Regions from separate parts of the Homo sapiens genome. Here region 1 is linked to region 2. Evidence: fine-mapped expression QTL. A gene starts in region 2. The other region holds a variant in brackets. All regions are shown on one strand. Distances are from middle to middle. Region 1 has its middle 4.7 kb from the start of NSFL1C. Region 2 holds the start of SIRPB1 (signal regulatory protein beta 1).

Region 1 (4,363 bases), 150 kb before region 2:
TCTACCTCACAGATCCGCCACCAGCACCTGACCCACCCCGCCCCACTTTCCCTTCTAACTCCACCCTCAGTACTAAATGCACCCCACCCTCCAAAGCCCACTTTCACTCCATTTCACCCCCAGCCCCCTCCGGGCTCATCTCCATCTTCCTTCCCACTCCAGTCTCACCCCAGCCCCTCCCTTTAATCCTATCTTCCACCACCTCCCGCCCCACCCCAGCCTTCCTTTGGCACCCCCTCTGCCGTGTCCTCACTGGTGGTGACTTCACTTTGGGCAGGAGCTGTGTGTACCCAGGACTGGTGTCTCCTCTGACCCCCTACTCCAGTCCCCTAAGCGCTAAACCCTCTATAGCTTAGGGGGCCAGGGGAGCTGCTAGGTGGAGCAAATGATTGATTTCTCAGCTGACATTCAGACCTTCCAGAGGCCCCTATACATGGAAGCTGCCGGTACCACTCACCCTTCTCTACTACCTCAGCCTCAGCACTGCCTTCTTCTACCACTCTTCTTCACAAAAGGTGACAGAGCGAGACTCTGTCTCAAAAAAAAATAATAATAATAATAACAACACTACCACTGCCTCAGCAAAGTTGGGACTATTTGTCTCTCTTTTCACAACATCTTCAACTAATGACAATAATAATAAAATAACAGTACTGCCAGCCGGTGACTAATGCTTGGTTGCATTAGTCAGCAGTGAGAACCAATGAAAACTGCAATGAGATTCCCTTTTGCCTTATCCAACTGGTAAAACATTTACAAGTCTGACTGTTAGAGTAGGCAGATAGCCAGAAATAAGCAGGCAAGGGAGCGTTTGGGAAAAGAAGTCCTGGAGACTCCATTCACTGACAGTCAGCGCCACCCACTGGCGGCCAGCAAAGAGACAATGGCTACACTGGCAACTTCTGGCCTTGTGGTTGGGCTCCTCTGGCCCTAAAGGGGACTTATGAGGCCTTACCCAGAGATAACCATGGTAGGGACTTTCCCACTGACGAGCATGTGCACTCCTCCAGTAACTCGCCCTACAGTAGCCTTTTGCTCATTATAATAACAAGCCGGGCACAGTGGCTCATGCCTGTAATCCCAGCACTTTGAGTGGCCGAGGTGGGCGGATGACGAAGTCAGGAATTTGAGATCAGCCTGGCCAATATGGTGAAACCCCGTCTCTACTAAAAAAATACAAAAATTAGCCAGGCATGGTGGTGCGTGCCTGTAGTCCCAGCTACTCAGGAAGCTGAGGCAGGAGAATCGCTGGAACCCGGAAGGCAGAGATTGCAGTGAACTGAGATCACACCACTGCACTCCAGCCTAGGTGACAGAGCGAGACTCTGTCTCAAAAAATAATAATAATAACAACAAAACACACCCCTGAGTGGAGATTTTAAATGCTAATGAGACAGGCAATGTGTTTACTAGCGCGTACAAACACACAACATTCACAGCCAGGGGGACCACCTAAAACATGATTGTAAGTGACGCTCCCTCATGCCCCTGCACGAATAATCATGTAAGATTCTCATAAAGAGGGTCCCCCAGCACCAGCTGCTGCTGGCTCGTTCTTTCAGAGTGTACTGTCTCTTTAAATAAACACTGCTACTGCTGTTTTTTGCCTGATGCTGTTTTCCAGCCAGGTCAGCCCACTCCTTTCTAGGAACGTACTTTATCTTTCTTCAATAAACTCTGCTACTTCACCTTTGCTGTGTGTCTCTTGGCTGAAATCTTTCTTCCAAGCAGACAAGAACTGAAGATTCCCGCACTTCCCTGTAATGTGACCATAGGAAATATTGGCATAAGCCTGAAACAACAGGAATTTTCCTGTGTCTAACAGCAGTATATGTTGGCTTAATGGCATTGGGGCATGATTTGGCCAATCTAGTGGAGTTGAAGAAGCACAGAACCTGTATAACCCTCCAGTTCTACTTGTGGGTGTGTGCACTTGTGCATGCATCAGGAGACACAGTGAAACTGTCTCTGTTTGGGATAGCGAGAAACTGGAACAACTAAGGTCTCCATCCATCAACAGAAATCACAAATGTAATATGTTAATACAATGGAATACTATACAGTTCTGAAGATGAATGAATTAGAGTTACAGGTAACCAACCTGGATATAACTCAAATGTTGAGTCAGAAAGCAAGGTTGAGAATGATCTGTGTAGCAAAGTGCCATTAATCAGTGCCATTTAGATAGAATTTAGAAATGTGCTTGACTAGGCCTGGCATTCCCCACTTTCTCAGGCCAATGACATGTAGCTGCTCTCTGGGCGGTGTGTCTTGTGGAGAGGACGGACTATTCTTGACCTGGCTGGCACCT[C/T]CTCTCACTGCACCCCGATACCGCCACCCCAATACTGCATGCAGCAGGGCTGCCATCCTTGGGTTGTCAGGTTATAGGAAGCCCCTGTCAAATGGTGTTTGCTCCTTTTCTTCCTCCAGCTCTAGGTCTAACCTGCAGGGGGAAATGGAGGGTCCTCGAGCCCGAGGAGAGTGGCGTGAATAGACCTATCTCTCACAGGGAGCAGTCACAAAGTCTGGGACTTTGGCAGCCTTGATGGGGGTTCCTTGGGGCAGGAAGAGCATGGGACAAGAACCATGGGAAGGGAAGGAAAGAGCTAAAGAAGAGCTGCAGGAAGGAGAAAACAGAAGGGGAGGGAGAGAAACGGATGCCCTGATTCAGGGATCTTGGAGTGTAGTCACTGACATCAAGGCATCAGATCTGAAGGCCCAGGCAGGACATGTAATAGTGGCCTGTTGGCCCTTAGTGGGGGCTGTGGCATGCCCCCTGCTCTGTCTTTGGTGGGTCATCTCACCTGTGCAATGCCTGGGGCCCCAAAGCAGCAGAAGGGCTGGGCTGAGGAGTTCTGTCTCCCATCCATTCCCCACCCTTTCTATCTGTGGTCAGCAGGTTTCCCAGAGTCCCCACGAAGGGCCTTAAATTGTTCATCTTTTGTTATATTTGTCTTCTTTAGTGGACTTGCCTCCACCTTGCTCCCCTGCCATGTCCCTATAAGTCCCTGGATCCAAGCAGGGCCAACTTTCTATAGGATTTTACAACTGAGTCTGTGGTGAGTAGGGTCATCTGACTTCTGAAGTTGCCCGATAAGGGGCCCAGGCACTGTAGGCTGCCATGCTCCTTGTCATGGGGAGGATAGTGACTACAGTTTATAGTTAGAATTGCATAACAATAGCCTAATGAAATAATGTAACTATAATAATTATTTAGGGCTTCTTATGTGCCAGGTGCTGCACATATACCAATGCATTTTAGCCTCAAAACTACCTAATAAGGGAGACACGCATGTTATTACCAGTTTATAGACAAGGAAACTGAGAGAAACAAACTCACCCAAGAGATAAGTAGGAGAACTGGAATTTGAACCTGCACAGCCAGATTTCCGAGACTGTGTGCTTCATCTCTGCCATGTATGTAGTTCAGGCGTTTACGGGGTCTAATACAGGCCAGGCATTCTGCTTGGTGTTTGCTGTTCTTGTGCAAGTCAAGCACGCTCCTGCCTCAGGACCTTTGCATTCGCTGTTCCTTGTACTTTTCAGCTCTTCCCCTGGGTATCTGCAGGGCTCTCTTCCTCACCTCCTTCAGGTGTCTGCTCAAATGTCACTTTATCAGGAGGCCTCTTCTGTCCACCCTGCATAAAATAGTGTCACTTCCCCTTTGCTCTGGCAACTTCCTTCCCCCTCCTCCTGCGTTGTGAAGGCCCTCAGCACTCAGTATAGTGGGGCCTGTTACTCACCTAGGGTTACTTGCTCATTGTCTGTCTTCTCTCGGGAGGAGGTAAGCTCTGAGAGAGCAGACTTCTGTTTCTTTCTCAGCACACTGATTAGGGCCTGGCACAGAGTCAGCTTTCAACCACGTTTCAGGATTCAATGAGGGTGGCTACAATAGTGGACCATTAGGTTCCTGTCCCCAGGGAGCTCAAATTCTAGTGGGGACAACTAACAACCATCAAGGAAGCAGATACACAAACACACACGCACACACAGACACGCACACATGCACACACGCACACACACGCACACACACGTGCACACGCAGGCACACAGATGCACACATGCATGCACACACACCCACATAGGTGCACACACACATGCATGTGCGCTCACACACACACACCACACACATGTTTTCAGGTAGCAGTAAGTACTATGAAGAAAACTTAAGTGGCAAGCAGGAATGAGAGTGATGGAGGTGCTTTTTTGGATAGAGTGGTCCAGAGAGGCCTTTAAAGGTAAGAGTTAAGCAGAGACTTGAATGAATCAGGGAGCTTTGTGTGGTCAAAGTCCAGAGGGGTGCTGGAGAAGAGTCAGCTTACAGGATCTGGGGAGATGAGGTCAGAGGGGGTGGCAGGGACCA
Region 2 (4,397 bases):
ATATACAAGGTAGGTCATATGTTAATTAGCTCAAATTAGGCATTCTGCAATGTACACATATTTCATTAATATGGTATACATGATAAGTATATACAGTTCTGTCAAATAAAAATAAAATATTTTGTTAAAAGTTTCATTGAAATTAGAAACTTGGAGAAACAATGATAAAAAATGAAATCTCCTGTGTGTGCATGTACACTTACTTATATGCATACATGCATATACATATGTATACACACATATGTATACACACATTTGCAAATATATATACACACACATATATGTATATATACACACACACACATATATATGTATATATAGACACACACATATACATTCACAAATATATATCAAAGTGTGACCTATTGTGATAGTATATAAGTTTGTTTTGTGTATTAAATAAAATTACAACACACGTTAAAATCTCATTAAAATATCTGGCCCATAGAAAGTAAAATATGTGGCCCATAGAAAGCATCCAACACATTAATAACAAATTTAGAAGTACATACATCACAGTTGTAACTCTGGTTGTTGCTAACAAGTGTGGTAGGCAATAATTAATTCTATGTTTACTTCCCTGCATTTTCTAATATTTCTGCTAGTAGCATAACACGACTAAAAGAATGAACTTTGGAGCCGGTCGACCTGGACTTGAATCTCAGCTGCTCCACTGACTGAGGTAGGGGACAATGAATGGACAAGTTCCTCCCTCTGCCTGAGTCTTTGTTTGGAAATAGGGGATAATAGTTGCAGCTTTCACACAGGGATGTTGTGAGGATTAGTGGAGCTAAAACAGGCAAAATGCTAATAACTGTGTCTACATGGTAGGAAGAGCTCAATTGTTAAACTCTTACTGCTGTCATTTGGGTACAGTGTATGTGTGAGAAAAATAATTTGAAAAGTGAGACCCCTGCCCTCTAGGGCCTGTGAGGTGACATCACAGCAGGGCCCAGTGGGGAATTGAGAGGCTGCTGTGCCCAGCCCTGTGGTTCTGGGGTCAGCTCCATGGCCTGAGAAGGGATCAGGACAGGTAACTTGTCTGGGAGCTGTGAGCAGGGTTCTCCCAGGCTGCACCAGGAAAGGCCCTCCAATCCTGCCTGTCTTGGGAAGGGGAAAGAAATTATCCATGGGAAATTTAAGAGAACCAAAGGAGGTTGTAGTACCTGTTATGGGCTGAATGTGTCCCACAAAATGCATGTGTTGAAGCTCTAATCCCCAGCACCTCTGAACGTTACAGTTTGGGAGACAGGGTCTTTAAGAAGTAATTTAGTTAAATGAGGTCATTGGGGTGGGCCTTAATACAACAAGACTGATATTCTCATAAGAAGAGGAGATGAGGACACAGACACACACAGAGGAAGATCATGTGTTTAAGACACAGAGAGAAAATGGCCCTGTATAAGCCAAGGAGAGAGACTTCAGTAGAAACTAACCCTGCTGACACCTTGATCTTGGACTTCAGCCTCCTTAACTGCAAGGAAGTAAATATCTGTAGTTTCAGCCACCCAGCCTGCAGTTCTTTGTTATGGAAGCCCTAGGAAAGGAATATAGGACCCAGTAAGCAGCAAATGTGGAACTTCTTAAAGAGGAAGAGGCCACAGAGAAATGGGTGGTAAGAATCAGGTCACAGGGGAGGGAGGAGCATGGGGGAACAGAGGACAAAGTGAGGAGCACCCTTAGGGAGGATGGTGGCTGAACACTCCCAGGATACACCACACCACTGCCCTACTCAAGTGAGCACTATTACAGACTTCACATCCTCAGTTTGGTGAAGAGAGAGGGCTGGGCCTAGAGCCACATAACCCTGTTAGGGTGTCTCTGAGCTTACTCTGTGGACTTGGGCATGTCACTTGGCCCTAGGGCCTCAGGACTGGTGAGGATTTAGATAATGATTCTTCTCTGCTTTTTCAATTGAAATATTATCAAAATGTAAGTAATTGTTGTTGTGGTGGTTGAATCGTCCTGTGGTTCAATGCCTCTGGTAGCCAGCTGCAGATCCACAGAGAAAGTGCTCAGCTCCCTGATTTTCTGCTCTCAGTCAAAGCCTAATCCTTGGCCTTTCTTGGCAGCACTTGTCATTGTCCGGAATCCCTGAAAGTCCAGGGACAGGCCATGGCTCAGTGGGCAGGAAAAAAGATTTTAACCGAAGGCAGTGCTCACCTGTGAGTCTCCCCAGCAGTAGCGTCATCAGCAGGAAAGGACTAGGAAGGTGGGGCCAGGAGGCTGGCACGGGCATTCTGGAGACCTTAGGAGCCTGCTCTGTCCAAACGTCTGTGCTGGGAAGATCGCAGACTCTGCTCTGAGGAGAGAAGACAAGCCCTGCCTCCCTTAGTTCAAGAGGAAGTGGCTGCGATGGAGTGAAGCAGTAACCTGCTTCTGGATTGTGAAACAGAAATCAGGAACAGCAAGCAGCTACAATGCAAGCAGTTATGCATGCCCCATTTCAGGAGAATCAGACAGGCTTAGCAGAAATAATGCTTCCTTCCCACCTGAGGTCTTAACTCCTTCCATGACTCCTAACCCCATCTTTATGTCTTCTTGGTGATTTGCCATTTGGTGCTCTTAAGCCAGGAAGGACCTGTGGTTATGAAATGTTTCCTAAACTTTCCATCTCAAGACCTCAGGATGTGGTTGGCTTGTGGTCTCATTCTACAACAGCCTCAACCAAGTGCTACTCAGTTGGGGCAGGATGAGGGATCACTGGACCTGCTCAGTGTTGGAGAGGAACAGGTCTGCTCTTGAAATGGTTCCCTATTCCGAACTTTTATAAATATAAATGGCAAAACTTAGCCCAAATTCAGTCTCATGTGGCCGTTAGCACTTTCATATGCCTGCACCCAGCAGAAGGAATTATTTCCTGACTTCTTCCAGGAGAGGAAGTGGGCTTAGGGTAATAAGGATCTGCTTTGTGAGGTGAGGTGGGGATTATGGGTTATGGAAAGGGGATATGTTTATTATGGGGGAGAATATGGAGGGCAGATTCCTGGAGCAGTCACATCGATTTCAATACTCTTTGCTCTGCACATAGAACACCTATTCCATTCATCACTGTCTTCAGATGGGAACTGAGGAGGGAGGGAGAATAAATACCCTAAGAAGATGTGCTAAGGAGTTGGGGAAGTTACTGGGCCTGCCTAGGTTCAGTTTTGCCTTCTAACCTTGGGATAATAAGTCTCACTGCCATGTTTTAGTGAACATCAAAAGAGATAATGACTATACATCCCTGAGATTCAGTAGGTTATTATTGATACTCATGGTGCCAGGTGAAGAGAGGGAACTCAAATATTGCTTTTAAATGGATTTCTACTGCATGCTGAGTTTCCCACCAGTGGCCTTCTCCCATGTTCCCCGGACTTCTGGAACCCAGCTTTTATGGTGTACTTGGTCTACCTCTGACACTCTGAGATCAATTTCTCCCTCTGGATCCTCTTCACCCTGCTTTTTGTCAATCTGTAGATGAATTCCTTTTCTTACAATCTCCAGCTGTGTGACTTTCAACAAGACACTTGACTTCTCTAAGCCTTAACTTAATTACATGTAAATGGAAGTTATAACATGCACCTTGTAGTGATATGGTAAGAGTAATATAAGCCATACAGAAGGTTTGATTCATATTTAATTATAACCAAAAAATTGTGGCTATAATTACATTTGTGTACAGGGTGAGTTCACTGCTTCCCTGACATACTTGTGCTTTAGAAAAATTTCCTTGGTAGGAGAAATGGTTTCTCCTCCATCATCTGTGACTAAGAAAGACCTGTCTGGAAACCTCTCTTTCCCATGCTGGGCTTGCAATCCTTCACCTATCATGAGTAATTGTCAAATGAAATTGTAAAAGTCATCACATTTCCATGCAAATTTCTTTTTCAATGTGGCAGATGCACAGAGGGTGAAATCATCACCTCCTGCTCCACACTCACAGAAATGAATATAAAAATGATAAAATCATGTTAATCGATGCCAAATTACACTTTAAAACAAGAAACTAGTCTCTATATGACATGAAGGGTAGTAGCTGCTGTGTTTACTGCAGATGTCCTGTGCTCCAGGTACTGTGCCAAGCATTTTGTCAGTTACCTCATTAATTCATCACTCTGGTCCCATGAAATTAGCACTACCATTAACCTTTTTTTATAGGTGAGGAAACTTGAGGCACGCAGGCAATAATACATTTGTTCAACATCACCCAGCTTTTAGAACTAGAACACAGGTTGTCACACTCCATGGCCTTCACTATGACACCTCTCATAAGAAGGGAGAGATATCTCTCAGGAAGGAAGCAGAGAAGAAGCCATAACGTCAATTAGGCGCAGCCTCCACAGCAAGGTTGGGATAGGTGCCATGTTCCATAAAGTGCTGACAGCCCATGATCACTCAGGGCATTATTCCTGTAA

What was found. PIP is the estimated chance that this variant, and not a neighbour inherited with it, causes the effect.
Region 1: its variant is the best candidate, but not a certain one, in a credible set for the expression of SIRPB1 in whole blood (INTERVAL, PIP 0.67).

What each region holds. Positions count from the first base shown.
Region 1 is chr20:1,469,375-1,473,737 of GRCh38, forward strand. It overlaps a transcript of SIRPB2 not described here. Among named protein-coding and RNA genes, the nearest start is that of NSFL1C, 4.7 kb to the left of the region's middle. The variant C/T (reference allele first, on the strand shown) is at 2,312.
Region 2 is chr20:1,617,706-1,622,102 of GRCh38, forward strand. SIRPB1 (signal regulatory protein beta 1) reads right to left here and starts at 2,304. Exons shown (of 6, transcript NM_006065.5): 1 at 2,164-2,304. The coding sequence starts at 2,239.